3 linked regions of the Homo sapiens genome follow. The protein of the gene in region 1 interacts with the protein of each later gene in a pairwise test. Each region holds a gene or a part of one and is shown in the gene's direction. Other genes may lie near its edges.

Region 1 (9,644 bases):
GTTGGGCCTGACCAAGCCAGCCATGCCCATGCAGCAAGCACGACCTGCACAACCACAGGAGCACCCTTTTGCTTCAAGCAGGTGAGAGCCCAACATGGAGTGTTACACGTATTGTGATGGACATGCAGATGATCCATGGGAGTAAGGGAAGAAAAATATTAGAATTTGTATTTTCTTATTATTAGAGAAAAAGATAAATGATTAAGCCTAATCAATATTCAGTGTTTTGTCAAAAAGGTTTGGAGACCACTGTGCTCAATTGCTGTTTTTAGACATTCCACATCTGATGTCCTTTTTGATGCTTAAGTAAAACTGGAAAAACTGAAAAGACTTCTTTCATGTGTCCTCAAACATACTTATGACCGGGTATTCACTTGACTCAGCCCATTGAGTGCCTAGACTGAGCTAACAAGCTCGATAAAATGCATTGCCCGACATGCTGAAGACAACCTCTTACTTTCAAGGCTTAAGAGAAGCACAGATTAGAATGATGAGGAATGATGAAGATTGTCCACATAAATGGACCTCACATAGACTGAACTCATGTTAGGCATGTCCTTAGGATTTTTTTGCTGTCTAAAAATTAATTAAACTGAATTGCTCCTTTTCCAGACAATTTTTTTTTCCGTGCAACATAAGTAAATTGCTAAGTACTGGGCTTTATATTCCTCAATAAAACTGCTTTAAATTGTTTTGTGTTAGTAGAGAGATAGCTTTGAAGAAAAAAATTACCAGTCAGTTACTACTCTGAATAATTATCTTGAAGAGCAGTAATTATGTGGCACCTAGTGTTGAAGACCAGAGTACTTTATTCAATCTGGGTTGATGTGTCTGTTAAAATCTTGCAGATTTCTGCAGCCTGTTCACAAGATTGATATGAACCTCACTGATCTTCTTGGGGAGCTACAGAGGGACCCATGGCCAGTAACTCAGGGGAAGAGACCTTTGCGATCCACTGGTGTGGCTTTGTCCATTGCTGTTGGCTTGCTGGAGGTAATTTAAAATTTACCAGGACCTCTCAAATCATACAAATGTGCTCTCAGAAAATATATTTGTTGGCTTTGTTTGAAAATCACTTGTGATCTAAGTCAACCGTCTGTGTTAATGTATCAGAAAGCATTTGAGGCATCATTATCATTCACGTTGAGGGAGCCCCTCAACATTTTGAAAATGCCAAAAGTTTTCATTGAAAAACTAAGAATTAGAGCAATAGGGAGCACTCAAACAGCGAATTAATAAAACTGTGCAAACCCATAAGGTTGGAAGAAGACAAGTGCTGCTTTTCTGCATTATCATCTGTATTATTCTGCATTATCACCACTTTTTAGGACAGCTGGAGAGAATGCATCTTTGGAGTATTTCTATTGGGAAACTGAAACCATACTAAAAGGTGAGGCTGTATACTTCTAACATGCTGCCATTCGCTATTTTAGGGCACTTTTCCAAACACAGGAGCCAGGATCATGCTGTTTACTGGAGGTCCCCCTACCCAAGGGCCTGGCATGGTGGTTGGAGATGAATTAAAGATTCCTATTCGTTCTTGGCATGATATTGAGAAAGATAATGCACGATTCATGAAAAAGGCAACCAAGGTAGGTGCTCTTGGGTATGGGCTGTAATTCTGAAAGCCCATTGTCAGGTTTGGGCTGCTCTGGAGTGACAGCTACTTTGCCAAGGTCATGTGTCATGGTCAGCAAGACGCTGTTTCAGAGACAGTTTTCCAATCTTAGCTGCTGTTAAATTATTGCTCCTACTTTCAGACCTTAATTAGAGTGGGTGGCCTTAAAACTACTCAAAGGGTTTTGAGAATGAAAACTATATTTTTATTTTATTCAGATATTTTTGAAAATGATTTCCAGGCCAGTCCCGGTGGCTCACGGCTGTAATCCCAGCGCTTTGGGAGGCCGAGGCTGGCAGATCACTTCAGGTCAGGAGTTCAAGACCAGCCTAGCCAACGTGGTGAAACCATATCTCTACTAAAAATACAAAATTTAAGCCAGGAGTGGTGACTCACGCCTGTAGTCCCAGCACTTTGGGATGCCAAGGTGGGCGGATCACTTGAGGTCAGGAGTTCGAGACGAGTCTTGCCAACATGGCGAAACGCCTGTCTGTACTAAAAATACAAAAATTAGCTGGGCATGGTGGCATGTGCCTGTAATTTCAGCTACTCGGGAGGCTGAGGCACGAGAATCCGTTGAACCTGGGAGGCAGAGGTTGCAGTGAGCTGAGATCGTGCCACTGCACTCCAGCCTGGGTGACGGAGTGAGACTGTCTCAAAAAGTAAATAAAAATAAAAATACAAAAATTTGCTGGGGATGGTGGCGCACGCTTTTAATCCCAGCTACTTGGGAGGCTGAGGCAGGATGATCACTTGAACCCGGGAGGTGGAGATCGCACCACTGCACTCTAGCCTGGGCAACAGAGAGAGACTCTGTCACAAAAAGAGAAAAGAAAATGATTTACATGTTTTTATATTTGATTACCTCCTTCGGTAATTCAGGCATACCTTGGGAATAATGTCACTGTTTCCTAAAGATAGCTTTCCTCTCTTCACAGCACTATGAGATGCTTGCTAATCGAACAGCTGCAAATGGTCACTGCATTGATATTTATGCTTGTGCCCTTGATCAAACTGGACTTTTGGAGATGAAGTGTTGTGCAAATCTTACTGGGTATGTTGACAGTGAAAACCTGGGCAGAGTGACAGTGTTATTTTAAGGAAAGAGAAATTAGTGATGGAGCCATAGGAATGGGCAAGGCCAACTCAGAGAAGCTTTCAGGTAGCTCTGGGCTATGGTTTCAGTGACTGGGGAGGGCCTGTGGGCTCCTTGGAGAGGGAAGTAGTGATTAGTAGGAGGGCTCAAGAGTTCACTACAAATAAGTCGTTTCAGAGTAACTTATTTCTTCCTTAGAGTTGTTAACACTTTTACAGAGACCAGGCCAAGAAAGCAAGCAGCATGGACTATCTGGCCTTCATCAGGGCACTTCCTTTTGAGAATTGGGGAAAACAGGGTCTGAATGCTGAAACAACTAGGATAAACCTGGCTAAGTGGCCATACTTTGTGACTAACTCCAAGTGCACTCAGCCTAGAGGTTGTACTGACTCAAAGCCTGAGTCAGTATTGTATTCACAGGCCAGAGTGTGGAGCAGTGGTTCTCAACATGTGGTGGTGTCCAGATTTGCAGCCTTAGGGGCTCCTGGGAACTGATTGGAATTGTATATTTCTAGGCCTTACCCAGACCTCCTGAATCGGAAACCCCGGGAATGCAGCTCTCTAGGAGATTCTAGGGCACATGAAAGTGTAGGAACCACTGATGAGCACTGGTCTGCAGCTGCCTACGTATTGTTATCACCAGGGGAACTTTAAAAGCTACACTTTCTTTAGGTCTTGTCCTCAGAGATTCTAATTTAATTAGCATGAGGTGCAGCCTGGGCATCAGCATTTTAAAAGTTTCTCCCGTGATTCTAACATAGAGCCGAGTTTGAGAACCATGCAGCATCTTGAGCCTCACTCTAGACCTGAATCAGAACCTGCATTTGAACAATATCCCAGGTGATTTGCATGCACAGAAGTTTGAGAAGCATCATAGAGCTGTGGAATGGGCCTGAGAGTCTGCATTTCTAACAACCCCACAGGTGATGCTGCTGGTCCCCAGTGAGTAAAAGGAATAAAAGGTAGAACCAGAATCAGTTGGAGTTGTCCTAGAGAGCAGCAGATGAGTTAGGTGATAGAATTAGGGTCCCAAATGATACTGATGTAGCTATCTCAGTAATCCACATTTAATAGTATGAATTCCTACCACGGCCTTCCAGGAGTTCTGACTCGGAATGTCCATAGAAAAGCTTTAGTGTATTTGTGAACATCCCTTAGATTGTATGCTAGTTTGTGTGAATTTTTTCTGTGAAGAGTTACCATCTGTTGCACACATGTGTTAGTATAGCTCAAGGTGAGCCAACAGTGTGGGATGACTTCCAGCAAAGGCAAGGTGATTCCAGGCTGTGCTATAGGAGAAGATTATCTTCAGGGAAGACCATATTCTTGGTTTCTTTGGTGCTAGTCACACCTTATCCAAATACATTGTTTTCTGTTCTGAACATTGCAATTTCAAGGGGCAATAGGAGATGAATTGGAGATGTTTGAAGAAGAGCAGTGGTGGAGAGTCCTGGAAACTGTCATGTGAGGAATGATTGAAGTAGCTGGAAAAGATTAAGCTGAAGACACATGGGGGTGTGAGAACTGTATTCAGCAGTTGAGGGACTTCCCTGTGAAGGAATCTGATTTGTTCTGTATGTGACCAAAGAGTGGAACTAGAACCAAACCAGTGGGTGGAAGCTGCTGGCAAATGAAATTTCACTCAATATCAAGAAGGGCCTTTCTTAACAGAGCTGTTCAAACACAGAATGGACAGCTTGGGGAGGAAGCTCCCAATGCTGGAGGAGTTCAAGCCTAGTCTGGATGTAACTTGGCAGGTATTTTGCAGAGGGTTTGGTTGAGTGTTAGTATTAGAGTTGTGTGAATGTCACAGAAAACCCACAATAAGTTTATTTCTCTGGCGGTAGGCAGTCCGGGGCTGGTATGTTGCTTTCGTCATCATTACGGGCTGAGGCTCCTACTAAGCTGCTCTACCACCATTCATATGCCATCTGTGGCTCAAGACAGTTGCTGGAGCTCTAGCCATTTACAGCAGCAGGAAGGAGGAAAGGTCAGAGAAGGATTGCTCTTCCTGGAGGAACACACTCCACATATAAAGGACACAGCAATAGTCAGAACGCACATGCCAACAGAGGCACATGGCCATAGGCAAGGCAGGCTGGAAAATGTCATTGTTCCAGGAAACTAAGGAAGAGGTAGATATTTGGTGCCAAAGAGCTGACAGACGGTTCAGGCACTCTGAGATGGCCGGACCAGATGATCTTTCTTGTGTTCTTCAAGATTCTGAGATCTTGTTTTATGAATGACGTTTGGAGGCATAACTTGCGTCAAGCTGTGCTTTTCTGTCCAAATGCATGAAATGCTGACATTTTGCACAATGTTTTCCTCTAACTTCAGTAAGGGATTAATATTAATACTCATGAGTTGGAAAACATAATTCTTGTAAAGTCAAGAATTCAGTATTTTGAGGCAGTAAATTAACCTGAAAAGGATTTCCCACAGGCCTGGGTATTTTCCCATACCAAAGAACTGTGAGAGGAATTAGAGCTGTTCTTAAGGCTTCTGTTTAATGCTTTAGAAGTAGTTTCTTTGCCAAGTATGAATTTAACATGCTGTTTTTATTTTTTTAATTTATTTTATTATTTATTTACTTATTTATTAATTTTTTTTTTGTTTGAGAAACAGTCTTGCTCTGTCGCCCAGGCTGGAGTGCAGTGGTCCGATCTTGGTTCGCTGCAACCTCTGCCTCCTGGGTTCAAGTGATTCTCCTGCCTCAGCCTCCTGAGTAGCTGGGATTGTGGCTACTAATCTTTGTGTTTTTAGCAGAGATGGGGTTTCACGATGTTGGCTAGGCTGGTCTTGAACTCCTGACCGCAAGTGATCCGCCCTCCTTGGCCTCCCAAAGTGCTGGGATTACAGGCGTGAGCCACTGTGCCTGGCCTGTTTTTTTATATTTAAATTAATCAGTGGCTCTTTTGGGGACCTGGTTTCTTTTTTTCTTTAAATTATTTTTGTAAATACTGAGGGAGCATCTGAATGGCTTTCAATCTTCCTAATATTCACTTGATTTTTTTCTTCTTACCTAGAGGCTACATGGTAATGGGAGATTCTTTCAACACTTCTCTCTTCAAGCAGACATTCCAAAGAATCTTTACTAAAGATTTTAATGGAGATTTCCGAATGGCATTTGGTGCTACTTTGGACGTAAAGGTACGGTAAACTTTTTTTTTTTTTTATGTGGACTCACTGTACTGCCCAGGCTGGTCTCAAACTCCTGGTCTCAGGCAATTTTCCCGCCTCAGCGTCCTAAAGTGCTGGGATTATGAGGCATGAGCCACTGTACCTGGCCATACTTTTAAAACTTCAATGAAATTATAGTGTTCTTACTTTTTCAATCAATATCCAGACTTCTGGCAACCTCCACCTGCTGGACATGGGCATGTAAAAGCCAATTAAAAGGATCTCAACCAAATGGCTATTAAAAGCATGTTATTCACTTTATCCCTTTGCTTCTTGAGGATGACCTATATATTTATTTATGTTCTAAGTAACAAGCTGCCTGGTTCACCCTCAGGCTCTGCTCCACCCTGCTTCAAGGCAGTAGGAGATAGAAGAGGAAGTAGGGTGGGTGTTATGAGCAGCACTGTGGCCTGAGGACAGGGGCAGCCACACGGTGGTCTGCATCCACCCAGCCATCAGCATGGCTCACTGCATTGCACAGAGACGTGGTTATGTTTAATGTCTTCCTGAAGAATAGCCAAAGTACTCTAAAATAGCACTGGGCCAGGCATGGTGGCTCATGCTTGTAATCCCAGCACTTTGGCAGGCCGAGGTGGGCGGATCACCTGAGGTTGGGAGTTCGAGACCAGCCTGACCAACAGGGAGAAACCCCATCTCTCCTAAAAATACAAAACTAGCCGGGCGTGGTGGCACATGCCTGTAGCCCCAGCTACTTGGGAGGCTGAGGCAGGAGAATGGCTTGTACGTAGGAGGCGGAGGTTGCGGTGAGCCAAAATCCTGCCATTGCACTCCAGCTGTGGCAACGAGTGAAACTGTCTCAAAAAAAAAAAAAAAAAAAGACAGCATTTTGAGATTTTTTTTTTCCCATGTAGGGACTCATGGCCCTGATACAGCTGATTCTAAGTCATTGAGAAAGCATTAAAAGAGGGTGTTAGGCCAGGCACGGTGGCTCATGTCTGTAATCCCAGCACTTTGGGAGGCCAAGGTGGGGTGATTGCATGAGCTTTGGAATTACAGACCAGCCTGGGCAACATAGCAAGACCCTGTGTCTACAAATGATTTAAAAAAAAAAAAATTAACCTCGTGTGGTGGTGCACACCTGTGGTTCCAGCTACTCAGGAGGCTGAGGCGGGAAAATCACATGTGCCCAGGAGTTTGAGGCTGCAGTGAGCTATGATCATGCCACTGCACTCAGCCTGGGCAACAGAGTTGCCAGTTGGCGGGGCAGGTCAGGGGCCGTCATTAGAAGATACGATTGGAATTATTACTTGGAGAATTAGAGATAATTATTAAATCATCTAGGTTAGACTTTAAACCATAATCTTAAATGCTTGAGGGTTTTCTTTTAAAGATGGACTTTTGAAATGAATTCACATTTTAAAAATCTAAGTATGTTGGCCTTGTCGTTATATTGGAGTTCATGAATTAAGTATTTTTAAAGCAACACAAAACAGTATGTTCTCTGATTAGGTATATGCAAATAATTATGGATATACATGAATGTGAATATATTCATACAAGGGATTGGAAAAGAATGTAGTATTGTTAGAATTGTTATCTACATGTACAGTAATTTCCAAGTTTAAAAAGTAAGTTGTGAGAGTTGAAAATGCTCATGTTTCAAGTGTTTCTAAGGGTGGATTTTATTAAAGTTCTAATCACAGTGGCTGAGGAAAAGTTTGTAGGACTAAGCAGTTATGATCCCTGTGGAGTTTTCTCTTGGCAGAATAGTAGTGTTATATTTTCCCTCTAAGCTTTCATTGTGGCCATGATGACAGCAGGGTGGATTGAAGTGATCTTTAACTTTACACTGTCACATATTTGTTATAGACCTCTCGGGAACTGAAGATTGCAGGAGCCATTGGTCCATGCGTATCTCTGAATGTGAAAGGACCGTGTGTGTCAGAAAATGTAAGGAAAACAACTCCATCACCCTCACCTCCTGCCCCGGATTTAACCCGTCAGAAGTGTCAGAGCATGATGATCTCACATGTGTCACCTGTTGGATGTGTCTGCAGTGACAGGAGAAGGGCTAACCCTCACTGATGACTATACTCGGAGAGGTGGTGTTATTCCATCTGTTCATCCAAAGGGTTAGAGAGAAGGAAACTGAGGCCCAGAAAGGTTCAGTATCTTGCTCAGGGTCAGAACTGACATGAAGGAGTTAGAGCCCAGGTGCCCCTGACTCCACCACCCATGGTCGTTGTGCCAAAGCCACGGCATGCTGTTCAGCACAAGGCAAACATTCAGCACAGTCCTTCCAGAGTAAGCCTATTGCTCATTGCCCTTAGAGGTGATACGTTTGTCTCACTCAGCTAATAACAAGCCTTTTACAACAGAGACCACCATGAGTTGGTGTGGAAGTGGGTGACACTGCTGTGTGTGCAGACATCTGTTTTCTCTAGTAATAGTTTTTGAGAACAATTTAGTTATCATTTGAGATGAGCGGCTTTGCTTATTGTCCACTTCCTCTGATTATACTTTACTTGCTAGGAGGCAAACCATTCGGTTTGGCAAGGCCTCTCTAAGGTGGTCCTGGGCTGGGGTTACACAGTCATGTTCTTCCCTCATTGTCACCATCAATGGGAGGGTAGACCATAGAGCCAGATGTGGATCCAAGGTGCAGGTTTACACCCCGCACCTGGCCCGAGCAAAGGACTTATTTGCTCTGTGATTCAGTATCCTTATCTGGCAAATGGGGATAATAACAGTGCCCACTCTACAGCATTGTTAGGAGGTTTAAATGAGTTGGTTCAGGTGAAGCAGTTAGTGCCTGGCACACTGGAAGTGTGGGTCTTCTTTCATGTTGTCAGCAACAAACGTTCTTGGGTGACCACATAAATTAAACTTTTGTTGAGCTTGGCAGAGGCAAGGTGATTTGAGAGCACATTCCTGTAGCCTTCTGAGTGAGGCAGATTGCTGCCCTAAAGCCCATCTGATGAGTCATTCATTACCCCCAGAGTACTAAGGGGCTTGTACCCCTATTTCCTGGCAAGGCTTTGGAAGGCTGCCTTGTTATAAAATATTTTTCATGGACTTAAAATCTGCCTGCTGAAGGCTTCTTGAAGTAGTTTAAGAAGGTATTTTTATGAATTAGTACAAACTAATTAATATTTCTAGTAGAATTCAGCCATGAAAGTTTTGTTTGGGGAATGAGGATGCAAAGAATAGGAAAATACAATTTTCAGACATACTGAGTGATGAATTTCTATACCTACCATTTAGTCATTGATTGTTAACATTTTGCCATAATTGCTCTGTTGTCTTGTTTGCCACATTTGCTTTATCTGATTTTCATTTATTTGCCACATTTGATTTATCAACTTTTTTTTTGCCGACCTTTGAAAATAATTTGCAGATATCATGACAGTCCTTAAGCACGTCAGTATGCATCTTCTAAAAATAACGATGTTCTCCTACCACGATGTCATTATCAAACTTAAGAAAATAATAATTTCCTAATATCTAGTTCATATTTTTTTCCTAATTTCCCCCCAAATGCCCTTTGTAGCTGTTTTTACCCCAACTGGCATTGCATTTGATATTACAGCCTTTGTAAAGTGAGAGTCTGGGTTAAAGGTGTGTTTACATTCAGGCAAAGCCTTTTTGCCAAGCATTGTTCCTGGGCAGTGTGTACTTTATGCTTGTGTCACATCCAGAGGCACTATGTCTGCTGTCCCGTGTTACATGTGCTGAGTTAGATCGCTTGGTGATGGTGGTAACTGCCCCACTGCCTTTCTACTGTAAGGG
Region 2 (8,322 bases), on another chromosome or scaffold:
TCAAAAACAAAATAGTCCTCTATACAAGGACCATCAACCAATAAGACCACCTTTTATAGTTTATATTCCTCCAGAATTTTTTCTATGCATATGACAATTTATATAATTTTTATTGTTTTTACAAAAACAGGATATGGTTTTGAAACTTGCTTGTTTCAATTAGTATATTCTGGACACCTATTATATCAACATATAACATAACATTTATTGATCCTTACTGTGTGCCTGGCACTGTGCTAAGGGCTTTACATGGATTACTTTGTTTACATACAGGTTTACCTCCTGCTTTTTTAATTGTTAATAGTACATTAATAATGTAATATTCTGTAGAACCAATGTTCCTTTATATAGCCAGACCCTATTGAAGATAATATAACAAACAACACTGGCCGGGCGCAGTGGCTCATGCCTGTAATCCCAGCACTTTGGGAGGCCAAGGCGGGCGGATCACAGGGTCAGGAGATCAAGACCATCCTGGCTAACACGGTGAAACTCCGTCTCTATTAATAATACAAAACATTAGCTGGGTGTGGTGGCAGGCGCCTGTAGTCCCAGCTACTCAGGAGGCTGAGGCAGGAGGATGGCGTGAACCTGGGAGGCGGAGCTTGCAGTGAGCCGAGATCACGGCCACTGCACTCCAGCCTGGGCAACAGAGTGAGACTGTCTCAAAAAAAAAAAAAATGAAAAAAAATAAACACTAAAACACTGTTAAACATACACACTTGTGAACAGAAGTAGAAAATTTTTAATAGAATTGCTGGCTCAAAAAATATGCACATTGTTTATTTTAATAGATGTCAAATAGCCCCTGGACAACAGTGTGTCAGTTTGTTCATCTGACAACATCTGTTAAATTCCGAACTGCTGGAATATAGGTGTCATCCAGTTTTACACTTGCAACATCTGCCTTGTCTCTTTTACCGCGGTTGTTTGGGACGGCTAGCTACTCTTGGTTTGTGTCTGCCTGAGTTCTCCTTTTGGTCCAGTTAGTTTACCATCTCTCCTCACCCTTGGCCTTTCTCCTTCATCCTTTATCAGGGGATTACAGTGACGCAATTGAGACGCTGCTCACAGCCATTGCGGTTATCAAACAGTCCCGGGTTGCCAATGATGAGCGTTGCCGTGTCCTCATCTCCTCTCTTAAGGACTGTCTTCATGGCATCGAAGCCAAGTCCTACAGTGTGGGTGCCAGTGGGAGCTCTTCCAGGTGAGTTGGTGATTGTGTCCTCACCTACCAGCCCCAAGCAGCACTCTTCCAGGGATAGGGAGTGGGGACAAATGGAGCCCAGGGAATCTGGGAAAGACCTGGCCGAAAGTCTGGACGTTAGCCTTCATGTCTTTTTGGGGAAGAAACTAATCAGATGCTTTCATTAATAAGTGTTGTAACATCTGGAATCTGGTGGGTGAGGCAGTGGGCTCATGTAGGAAAAAATACAGACAGATATTTTTAAGAACATGGGTTTTGGAGCCCTACAAGCTTGGATTGGAATCCCAGTTCTGCTGCTAACTATCTGTATGACCTTCTTGTGTATGGAAGTTAGTCAACTTTCCAAGCCTTATTTTTCTCATTTTCTAAAAAAGGGACACTGATAGTATTTATCTTACAGACCTGTTGTAAAGATTAGGTCAGATAATCCATACAAAATTATTAGCACTACACCTGATAAATTAGTTCTCAACAGATAAATTTACCTGTTAATCATCTTCCCAAAAAAGAGTAGTCCTCAAAGAGCTAAAATCCTCAGACAGCAGGCCCATGATAGAGTAATAGAGGAATAGTTTAGGCAAATATCAGAAGACACCAAAACACCACATTCTTGGAAAGAAAGTGGTAGGCCTTCTGAGTGAGGCTGAAGGATCTTTCTAATAGGAAAAGACATCGCTCCCGGGAAAGGTCACCTAGCCGGTCCCGGGAGAGCAGCAGGAGGCACCGGGATCTGCTTCATAATGAAGATCGGCATGATGATTATTTCCAAGAAAGGAACCGGGAGCATGAGAGACACCGGGATAGAGAACGGGACCGGCACCACTGAGAAAGGTGGGGAGAAGCCCCGTTCCTGGCTGCTGGGGGATTTTTTATTAAAAAAAGATTTATAGTGAAGAATTCTCTCTCTTTAAAGCAAAAGTAAATGCAGCAAGGGTAGGGGGAACTTCTGATTTACATAACTGGAATTTCAGGGCAGATTTTCTGCACATTTATGGGGAGTCTTACCCTGAGATTCAGCTGTTTCTGCTTGTTTCTTGACTGCCTTAACCTGGTATCTGAGTGAGAGTATGGTGTCTGCATTCAGGTACCAATTTGAATCCCAGTTTCTCCACTAATAATTGGCCATATTACTTTCTGTTCCACAGTTTCATTTGTAAATGAAGATAATAAAAGCAACTGTCCCAGTGACTTGCTAAGTTTTAGTGAGAGAGTCCATGTAGACCATTTAGCACTCATGGTACCTGTCACATAGTAAGTTCTCAATAATTAATAGCCATTGTTATTATCATTATGAACTTTCAATTTAAATTAGGAAAATTGACTAAGAATAGTAAAGCCATTGCCACTTAGTTTTCAAGCTGCAACATTAATGATTTTAAGAATTAGGCTTGGCATGATGGCTCACACCTATGATCCCAGCACTTTGGGAGGCCAAGATGGGAGGATTGTTTGAGCCAGGAGTTCGAGACCAGCCTGGGCAACATAGGGAGACCCTGTCTCTACAAAAAATACAAAAATTAGCCAAGTGTGGTGGTCCCAGCTACTTAGGAGGTGGAGGTGGGAGGGTTGCTTGAGCCTAGGAGGTCGAGGCTGCAGTGATCTGTGATTGCACCACTGCACTCTGGCCTGAGCGACAGTGAGACCTTGTCTGAAAAAAGGTAGGGAGGAGGGGCGGGTGGGTGCCTCATGCCTGTAATCCCATCACTTCAGTAATTTGGGAGGCAGAGGCTAGAGGATCACTTAAGCAGGAGTTTGAGACCAGCCTGAGCAACATAGTGAAACCCTATCTTTTTTTTTTTGAGACAGAGCCTCACTTTGCCGCCCACGCTGGAGTATAGTGGCATGATCTCAGCTCACTGCAACCCCCACTTCCCGGGTTCAAGCTATTCTGCCTCAGCCTCCCCAGCAGCTGGGGCTACAGGCGCGCGTCACCACGCCCGCTAATTTTTCTGTTTTTAGTAGAGGCGGGGCTTTACCATACTGGCCAGGTTGGCCTTGAACTCCTGACTTCGTGATCAGCCCACCTTGGCCTCCCAAAGTGCTAGGATTACAGGCGTGAGCCACCATGCCTGGCCGAGACCCCATCTCTTTAAAAAAAAAAAAACGGTTTATTTAAAAGATTTTGAAAATTAATATGCTTTAGTCAGAGAGGAGAAAGCTGATCTGAAAAATTATCTTTAACAGGTTTAGAGGCTTTGTGGTGGATAATTAACTTCAACGGAAGGGTTTTTTGCTTTTGGAAAAGACTTAGTGACAAGGTTGTTTATTTTGTTGTTGTGTTTTTTGTTTTGTTTTGTTTTGAGACAGAGTCTCACTCTTGCCCAGGCTGGAGTGCAGTGGCGCAATCTCGGCTCACTGCAAACTCCACCTCCCGGGTTCAAGCAATTCTCTGCCTCAGCCTCCCGAGTAGCTGGGATTACAAGCGCCCACCACCACGCCCGGCTAATTTTTGTATTTTCAGTAGAGACGGGGTTTCATCATCTCGGCCAGGCTGGTCTTGAACTCCTGACCTCGTGATCCACCTGACTCGGCCTCCCAAAGTGCTGGGATTACAGGCGTGAGCCACCGCACCCGGCTGTTTTTTTGTTTTGTTTTGTTTTGTTTTTGTTTTTGTTTTTTTAATAGACACATTGTCTCACTCTGTCACCCAGGCTGGAGTGCACTGTCATGAGGCACCATCATGGCTCTGTAACATCAACCTCCTGGGCTCAGGTGATCCTCCTGCCTCAGCCTCCTGAGGGCTAATTTTTAAATTTTTTGTAGAGTCTTGCTTTGTTGCCCAGGCTGGTCTTGAACTCCTGGCCTCAAGTGATCCCCCTGCCTCAGCCTCCCAATGTGCTGTGGGATTATGGGCATGAAGCCACTGCGACTGGCTGTAATTTTCTTTTGAAGCAAAATGAAAGCAGGAAGGTTGGGATAAAAACTCTTAAGTAATGGAGAAGTTCAGTTAAGATTGGTTGGATCCAGGGGCTCTGGCTGTGTCATCCAGACTTTATCTGCATCTCTCAGCTCTGCTTTTCTCTGTTGCTTTCATTCTTAGACAGGCTCCATATTGGTAGGGAGTCAGAGGGGGTGCTGTGTCTTTAGGTTGCATCCTACCAGCTTAGCAATCCCAACTGAAGGAAAACTTCTGGAAAGATTGTTTCTATTATATAAGCATATAGGAGCAGGTGTTGTCTCTGCTTCTATGGAAATCTTTAAAATAGGCCAGAGTGGCTAGGGGTCTGTCTGTAGTTCTTGGAGGCTACTGCGTGACCCAGGTAACTTCAGGGTCCTTTCTTAATTTTGTGGTTGCAGATTTATAAGTCTCTAGGACTTCCCATTTCTCTGTCTCACATCAAGTACATTAGGAAGATGTCCTTGGCCGAGCACGGTGGCTCACACCTGAAATCCCAGCACTTTGGGAGGCCAAGGTGGGTGGATCACGAGGTCAGGAGATTGAGACCGTCCTGGCTAACATGGTGAAACCCCGTCTCTATCCCGACCGAGACCATCCTGGCTAACACGGTGAAACCCCATCTCTACTAAAAATACACACAAAAAAATTAGCCGGGCATGGTGGCAGGTGCCTGTAGTCCCAGCTACTCAGGAGGCTGAGGCAGGAGAATGGCATGAACCCGGGAGGCAGAGCTTGCAGTGAGCCGAGATCGCGCCACTGTACTCCAGCCTGGGCGACAGAGTGAGACTCTGTCTCAAAAAAAAAAAAAAAAAGATGTCCTTGATTATTTGCCTGCTTGATCTAAAGTAATGGTAATTGAAAAGGAAGGTGAGGGGAAAGAATAGTAGTTCTTTTTGGTGTCTTTGGGATGGCGATATCTGGATGAAGAAGGACAAAGAAACTCACCACCTGTGAGCCCCTATAGTTCATGAGCAGTAGCTGGAATGTAAATAGTTGGAAAATTAGCAGTATTTTGCCCAGTGACAACCTACTAAAAACCAAAATACTCCTTTTAGGTTTGGCTACTGCCCTCTGTCTTGTTCTTTGGCCATTAGCTTAAATAGATTTATAGCCAGGAATTGTTTTTATCTTCTCCCAAACAAGTAAGTGGAAAGATGAAAAATTACTAATATTTTTTGTCTCTGTTCTCTGTTGTTAGCCACTCATTTATTCCACAAAATCCTAGAGTGCTTAACATCATTGAAATCTAGGTTAACTCATGTAGAATCAACAGTTAGGCTGTGGGCTCCAGGTACTTCTTTCTAGATTTTGCAACAGGTTGAGTTTGGGGAGATGCCCATGTATCCTCTGGAAAAGCAGACGCTATTGTAGATGGAGACCACAAACAACTTTGGCCTAATTCAGTCTCAGGTGGGCATGAGGGCAGGCATTAGAGTTGGTCTTGGTCCAGTCCTAACTCCCTTTTCTTGTTTGAGTCTGCACAGTTGCTAGTGTTACTTGTGGGTTGAAAAGCACATGTAGGCTACAGTGTATGTCTTTTGGAGCTGACTGGGATAAGAGTGAACAGGAAGGTGATGATTGACCTGTGCAGAGCATGCACTGTCGTCTTTGGGGCTGCATTCAGTTTAGTAGTTAGAACATAAATGCATGTCACCATTCCTGATGGCTTTGCTCCTGACAGCCTTATGACAGGGAAATTACCAGCGAGATCCACTGATCCAGCAGTAGTTTGAGAATTAAACATCTCAACCTGAGTCTTTAGCTGTCACTTTGCATTATTTCTTCCACTTATAAAATGGGGCCAGGCACAGTGGCTCATGCCTGTAACTTCAACACTTTGGGAGGCCGAGAGGGGCAGATCGCTTGAGCTCAGGGACCAGCCTGAGGAACATGGCAAAACACTCGTCTCTACCAGAGATACAAAACTAGCTGGGCATGGTGATGTGCTCCTGTAGTCCCAGCTACTTGGGGGTGCTGAGGCAGGAGGAGTCCCAGCTACTTGGGGGCACTTAGGTGGGAGGATCACTTGAGCCCGGGAGATAGAGGCTGCAGTGAGCCATGTTTGTGCCACTGCACTCCAGCCTGGGCAATAGAGCAAGACCCTGTCTCAAAAAAAATAGTAATAAAAATAAAATAAGATGAGACTATTTCTCCCATTATGAGGATAACTCTCTTTTGGTAACTTTGAAAATGCTGTAACAATATTGCCTAGAAAACAGTCATTTGACTTGTGTAGGCCCATGACAAGATGGGAAAAATTAACTCTGAGGCAGGTTTTCTACTTCCTCACTTTTCCTGGTCACCCGTTTGATATAGTGGTTATTGCATCTGAATAATAGTCTGAAAGAACTGAATCAGGCACCCCAAGAATGTCAATTTCTTACATTCTCACCCTAAGGACTCTTAATTCCATCTGTAGTGACCAAGTTATGGCTTAGGAAGTTTCATGTTGGGAAGATGGTACATGGTCCTCATTTATAGCAACCTTTTAGTTAGAAATGAATCATATTTATATTCTATGATGACAGCTGTTCCCTGAGAGTGAAAGGTACATTTTGTCCAGAGGCAGCAATAGAACAGTAGCCTTCTTTGTCCATCTTTTCTCGGCGTAAGACCCAGTTCTGGGGCCTGAAGGCTAATTGGCCCACTTGAAGGAATCTCTGATTTCTGCCTGCATTCCAACATTGGCACCAAAATGTAGCCATGGAGATTTAAGAATTCAGTGCTATGGCTTGCTTCTCTTGGTGTACAAGTTATCCTCTGCAACCTGTGTCTTCAACTTTTTGTAGTTCTCAACTATGTCAGTTATCTCATTATTTTAGGACATTATCCTACTTGAAATATAGTCATTCTCACGTCATTCCTGTCCTCGTTATCCATTGAAAACTGAGCTTTCTCTTCAATTTGGATCGAATTCAAAGATTCAGAAGCCCTAATGGTATGTAATTGAGTGCACTGAGGGCTTCAGTTTTCCCTTAGAGAAAATGGGACAAATACCAGCCTGCGTAGGTGTTTAGACAGGCCAGGAAGGCTTAGGCCATATAGATTCTGAGGACCCAAGCTGAAAATAGTGTCATTTCGGTGTGTACAAGGATCAGGGAGGACGTAGATGTCTCCTCTAGGTTTTATAAGGCCACTTTACAGAAGTAGTTATATAAAAGGTAAACATTTGTGCGTAGGCTGTGTTGCCAGTTTGGGCATTAGGAGAAATTCTAATTCCTCATTTTCCCTTTGGCTATTAATTCTGTTTAATATGCTCAGACTGACCATACCACCACCCGCAGATGGGTATTGCAGCATTGGAACAGGTGCTGAGTATAGTAGGAACTTTGTTTGGTGGCCATGTGACAGGTGGCTTAATAGACCCTTTTGGGTAAAACTTCTTAACTGCATTTAGGTTTCTTCCATGCTCTGCTTTCTGTTCTGGCCTGGCCACGTGACTCCTGCTTAGTGTTAGTATGTTTCCTGGTTCCTCACCTATGGCTGTCATGCGAGGAAAGACTTAAAATCTCGAGTTTTAGTACACTTGGAAAACCTCTGGGGCTGTGTTTGTGTACACACATACTCATAAAGGCACTTTTAGCCAGGACTCCTTTAAAAAGAAAAAAGAAGGATTTAAGAGTTTCCTGTGTATGTGCATCCTGCCTGCTAGGGCCTCTTGGGTGTTTGGGGATTAATGGATTTGGTTGTGTACATACTTGTTTTCTTACCACTAAACCTCCCATTTCCAGATTTTTCCCCCTCCCCTTAAGGTAAGCTATGACTTGCACAGAATAGACTTCTTAACCTATATTTAAACTCACCTTATTCCCTTTTAGCAACTTTTCTTGAAATATGTCACAGTTTCCATACTTTTGCAGCCAAAGTCTCCTTTTCAGTCGAACGTTCAGAGACCTCATTTTGTTCTGTTTTTTCACCGAATCTTTATAGTGGATGTCACTGCTTTTTTTCTCTCTACTCACAGTAGCTTCTCCTCCAGCCATTCCTCACCACTTCTAGTGTCAGACAGTCCTGCTTTGTTTTCCCAGACTTGCATTCTCTGTCTGCATTCCTTACTTCTTATGTTGTAGCGTTAGAATATGTGTGTTTTATATAAGCCCCTGTCATTCAGAAAGTAACCTCTAACTTGTGTTTTCTTTCTTTTCTTCTGATGTTCTCATTGCAGGAGTCTGGTTGGAAGCAAATGTTTTTTTAATGGACTTGCATCTCCTCACCT
Region 3 (5,016 bases), on another chromosome or scaffold:
CGTGTTCTTCCACCCTGTGTCCCAGGTGGCTACTACCTGACCAGCCTCTCTGCCAGCCTGGCCCTGCTGAGTGGCCTGGGTCAGGCCCACACCCTCCCACTGAGCCCCGTGCAGGAGCTACGGCGCTCCCTCAGCCTCTGGGAGCAGCGCCGCCTGCCTGCCACCCACTGCTTCCAGGTAACAGGCCCTCCACCGTGTCCTCAGAGCCAGACGCCATCCCCGCCTTTCACCTTCCTGTCCTTGGTGAAGAGTCCAGACTCTGTAGACAGATCCTGGGTTCTAATCCTGGCTCTGCCACTGGGTTGTGGGGACTTGGGCGAGTTACTTAACTACTTCGTGCCTCAGTTTTCTCATCAGTAAAATGGGGTAATAGGACCTACCTCCTGGGGTTGAGGTGAAGATTAAATGAGTTAATGCAGGAGAGTGCTTGGGGCACAAATTACTCACTATCAAATCTTCATCTCAGGCTTGTGAGCGCCCCACTGGGCTGTCCTTGCACCTGCGGCTGTGGCCCACAAGCCGACCCCTGGAGCACATAGAGCTTTTGCCGCTTGGTTCTCCCACTGGATCTCCACCTACCCACCCTGTCCCTGCACAGCCCAGAAAGCTGATGTCTCAGCTTTGGAGCCAGATGCATGCCAGCCGGGGCTGAGTACTTGTTTTTGCTTCTCCTCCTGCATAGCACCTCCTCCGAGTAGCCTATCAGGATCCCAGCAGTGGCTGCACCTCCAAGACCCTGGCCGTGCCCCCAGAAGCCTCGATTGCCACCCTGAACCAGCTCTGTGCCACCAAGTTCCGAGTGACCCAGCCCAACACTTTTGGCCTCTTCCTGTACAAGGAGCAGGGCTACCACCGCCTGCCCCCTGGGGCCCTGGCCCACAGGCTGCCCACCACTGGCTACCTCGTCTACCGCCGGGCGGAGTGGCCTGAGACCCAGGGGGCTGTGACAGAGGAGGAGGGCAGTGGGCAGTCAGAGGCAAGAAGCAGAGGGGAGGAGCAAGGGTGCCAGGGAGATGGGGATGCTGGGGTCAAAGCCAGCCCCAGGGACATTCGGGAACAGTCTGAGACAACTGCTGAAGGGGGCCAGGGTCAAGCCCAGGAAGGCCCTGCTCAGCCAGGGGAACCAGAGGCAGAGGGAAGCCGGGCAGCAGAGGAGTAGCTTGAAGTGGCCAGAAGGGTCATTCGGGGCGGGAGACCCTGAGCCTGCTGAGAAATCCTTTTAGCGCCAGCAAGCCCCACCCAGGGCCCTGTCCTGTGTCTGCCACCACCTTTGTCTGATACTTGTTTCCAGGGAAGCTGGGGGAACTGCCACATCTGAGGAACTGGAATAAAGATGAGGGGGCTTCGGGGGCCCCCAGACTGTGTGCCCAAGGCCCCTTGCCTCTTGTTCTTCTCCCCCAGCTGAGGGTGAGCCAGCCTGCAATGAGGGTGTGCCAAGTGGGGGCGAATCCGACAGATGCCCAACCTCTGACGTGGGGAGGGTGACGGTCTCAGCTCCTTTTACCCTTCCCCTCATGGGCATGGCTGAGGCAGGGCTCCACCCAAGTATCTCCCACCAGGCTGGGACTTCCAGACCCTAAAAGGTTCCAATGGCTCTTAGGTGTCAGGAGGATTTAGAGAGGCCACAGAACAGCAGCAAAGGCTTGGGGCCCACCCCTGTCCTGGACACCAGAAGGACCTGCACCTGCAAGCCTCAGTACTCTCATCTGTAAAGTGGGGACACTATTGCTGCCCTGCTCGGCTCCCAGAAGTGTCCCAGTGATCAAAATGGGTGATTTTGCTACAAGCAGAGCTCATGGCAGAAAGGGAGGGAGAGAGCTGGGCTGCTAACTCTCTCCCGGAGTCCGCTCTCTGCCAGACAGGGCTCCCACCTGCTGATGCCCAGTTCAGGGAGGTTATTCCCCTGGAAATCAGGCCCTGGGGAGAAAGTACCCAAGTTACAGTCTCTCCCCAAGATTTGGAGTCCTCCCAGGCCCTCCAGCATCTCTGGGGAGATCCACCAGCTGGCAGATAAGCTTCCAGAATGGAGAGGGGGCTCAGAAACCATGCTCTCTGCACTAAACTCTTGGCCCTCACAAAAGCTTTACTTGGCCATGACTTGTTGGGCCCACTGAGGGTCAGGAAAGTGACTCCCAGGATGTCATATAGCAAGTCCTTAAGGGTTCCCCCGCCCAAACCAGGGCATCAGGTTCCAACTCCACCCTCCATTCTAAGCCACCCACAAAGGCCGGGGCAGCCCCCAAGGAAGCCCAGAGCAGGCAGCAAATCCAAACAAGGAAAAGTGCCGACCACCAACCACGAGGGGGTGTGCACGGCCCGGGAATCTGCCGAGAGGGTGACCACCCAGGGGTGAGGGCGCCTCCAAGGCTGCAGCAGCAGAGGGGGTCCCGGGCCTTGCAGTCCAGCAGCATCAGGCAACCTGGGGACAGCGCAGGGGCCAAGGCCACTGGCCCCCAGGTCCCTTAGATTCTGGGGTCTGGGTAAGGCCAGCCTCTTGGGGGCCATCCCCAGGAAGGAAGGAATTGTCCCCTTATGGAGGATGACCCCAGAGGCTCTCTCCTCGGGCACTGAGCACAGAGGGGACGTCAGCCCAAATGTCAGACATGACAACTGGGAGGTAGAAATCGTGGACATTGGCTTTTTGGGTTTTTTTGTTTGTTTGTTTGTTTGAGATGGAGTTTTGCTCTGTCGCTCTGGCTAAAGTGCAGTGGTGCCATCTCGGCTCACAGCAACCTTCGCCTCCCAGTTCAAGTGATTCTCCTGCCTCAGCCTCCCGAGTAGCTGGGACTACAGGTGTGCACCACCACACCTGGCTAATTTTTGTGTTACTAGTAGAGACGGGGTTTCCCCATGTTGGCCAGGCTGGTCTCAAACTCCCGACCTCAGGTGATCCGCCCGCCTTGGCCTCCCAAAGTACTGGGATTACAGGCGTGAGCTACCACACCCAGCCAGACATTGACTTTCAGATGAGCAGTCCAGATACAGCCCAGTTGCACGGCTCCCATTTTTTTTGTCACTAGGCCACCAGCAGCTCTTCCCTCCCCACTTCCACGCCCTCCCAAGGTTCTCGCTGATAGGAAGTGTCCCGTTGGCTCTTCTATTCCCCTCCCTGTTTCACCACTCACCCCTAGTGCCTCACACAGTCCAATGCTGAGCACAAATGCCATAGGTGTTCAATAAATGTTGTTCACTGATTGGAGTTTGATAACCAGGAGTGAGGGACAGTGAGGCAGAAACCTGGGGAGTATAAGGGAGGACTCGGTTCTGGGAATCAAACACGGGATGTGTCAAGCTCAGTCCCAGAGGAAGGACCTGGAATGTTTGTAGAGGGTGCTCGGAGGATCCCAGGGGCCGGATGTACAACTGGCCTCATGGGAATGAGGCTCTGGGGCCTCTACAAGCCCTTCCCACCCTTGCCAGGCTCAGCATGACCTGACCCCCTCCCTGCCCTCCCCAGTGATGGGGCACCACAGGGAGCTGCTGCCTGGGTCTTGTGGTTTTTCTTCTCAAGAAACTCTGGGCTGGGCCTGGTGGCTCACGCCTGTAATCCCAACACTTTGGGAGGCCGAGGCCGGTGGATCACCTGAGGTCAGGAGTTCAAGACCAGCCTGGCCAGCATGGTGAAACCCCGTCTCTACTAAAAATACAAAAATTAGCCAGGCGTCGTGGCACACACCTGTAGTCCCAGCTACTGGGGAGGCTGAGGCAAGAGAATCACTTGAACCCGGGAGGCAGAGGTTGCAGTGACCCGAGATCACACCACTGCACTCCACCCTGGGCAACAGAGCAAGACTCCATCTCAAAAAAAAAAAAGAAATGAAAAGAAAACAAAAAAGAAACTGATTGGTCAGGGGTCCAGGCCAAATCAGCATCAACAAGATTATGATCCTGGGGCAGAGCCTCCAGGCAAGGCAGACAATGATAGGCCAGTGTAAGACCAGTCTCACTAGCCCCATTTTACAGATGAGAAAACTCAGACTTGCTCAGGGAAAGTGCCTTGTTACAGGACAAAGGGCTCAGACACCAGGTTCTGTAGTCCTTCAAAGCAGAGGGGCTGATTTATATGTCCACTCAGCACATCTATCAAACATCTGTTATAGGCCGGGCAAGGTGGCTCAGGCCTGTAATCCTAGCACTCTGGGAGGCCGAGGTAGGCAGATCACCTGAGGTCAGGAGTTCAAGACCAGCCTAGCCAACATGGTGAAACCCCATCTCTACTAAAAATATAGAAGTTAGCTGGGCAAGGTGGCTCACGCCTGTAGTTCCAGCTACTTGGGAGGCTGAGACTGGAGAATTGCTTGAACCTGGGAGGTGGAGGTTGCAGTGAGCTGAGATCACACCACTGCATTCCAGCCTGGGCGACAGAGCAAGACTCCAAAAAAAAAAATCAAACAACAACAACAACAACAGAAGTGTCTGTTATAGACCAAGCACCAAGCGCCCCCAGCTCCAGCCAAAGGGAAATAGGTCACATCTCTCCATTTGCATGGCGTGATCTGGGTGGTAACTGAAAGCTCACTGTGTCCTAGGGATTCCATGCCACCCCTTCCCCAGCCTTTGTCCTTATGGAAAAAGAAGCCAAGGCTCCAAGAGGTGACATGCCTGGCCCAGCGTCCGCTGCTGCAGGGCAAGACTGGAACTCTGACGTTTGGATCTATGAAAGAGCAGTCGGGTCATTTCCTTACTTGGAAGCATTGACCTTATCACTCCTAAAGTCACGGTGGTTCTGTATGCAAGTTTATTGTCTGTTTCCCTCACTAGAATGCCAGAGCCACCCCCACCTTGTTCGCAGTTAAATCTCAAGGGCCTTGAACAATGGCCGGGCCGGAACTGGCACTTGTGAATCTATGTGGAATGACTGATTCGGAAAGACGCAGCCTAAACTGTCCCTCCGCTTTCCTGGGTTGCAGGGTGGCGCATCCTTCATTGCTGCCACCAGGGGGCAGAGCGCACCTCATTCCTGGCCACGTGCAGGGTCCCCTCTGCTGAGGCGGAGGACCCAGGGGACTCAGTGCT

The links. Proteins that work in one complex are often made in the same cells at the same time.
Region 2: the proteins of SEC23B (region 1) and CPSF7 interact in binary tests that used the Homo sapiens proteins (3 or more experiments, as listed by UniProt).
Region 3: the proteins of SEC23B (region 1) and RIN1 interact in binary tests that used the Homo sapiens proteins (3 or more experiments, as listed by UniProt).

Annotation. Positions count from the first base shown.
Region 1 is NC_000020.11:18,524,940-18,534,583, forward strand, and holds part of SEC23B (protein transport protein Sec23B), read left to right. Parts: coding exon 1-81; intron 82-848; coding exon 849-993; intron 994-1,433; coding exon 1,434-1,592; intron 1,593-2,556; coding exon 2,557-2,672; intron 2,673-5,740; coding exon 5,741-5,864; intron 5,865-7,724; coding exon 7,725-7,805; intron 7,806-9,644. UniProt on the Homo sapiens protein: Component of the coat protein complex II (COPII) which promotes the formation of transport vesicles from the endoplasmic reticulum (ER).
Region 2 is NC_000011.10:61,404,654-61,412,975, reverse strand, and holds part of CPSF7 (cleavage and polyadenylation specificity factor subunit 7), read left to right. Parts: intron 1-1,038; coding exon 1,039-1,207; intron 1,208-1,870; coding exon 1,871-2,033; 3' UTR 2,034-2,038; exon of another isoform or gene 2,039-2,395; intron 2,396-8,271; 3' UTR 8,272-8,322.
Region 3 is NC_000011.10:66,328,419-66,333,434, reverse strand, and holds the end of RIN1 (ras and Rab interactor 1), read left to right. Parts: intron 1-25; coding exon 26-177; intron 178-682; coding exon 683-1,159; 3' UTR 1,160-3,194; downstream 3,195-5,016. UniProt on the Homo sapiens protein: Ras effector protein, which may serve as an inhibitory modulator of neuronal plasticity in aversive memory formation. Can affect Ras signaling at different levels. First, by competing with RAF1 protein for binding to activated Ras.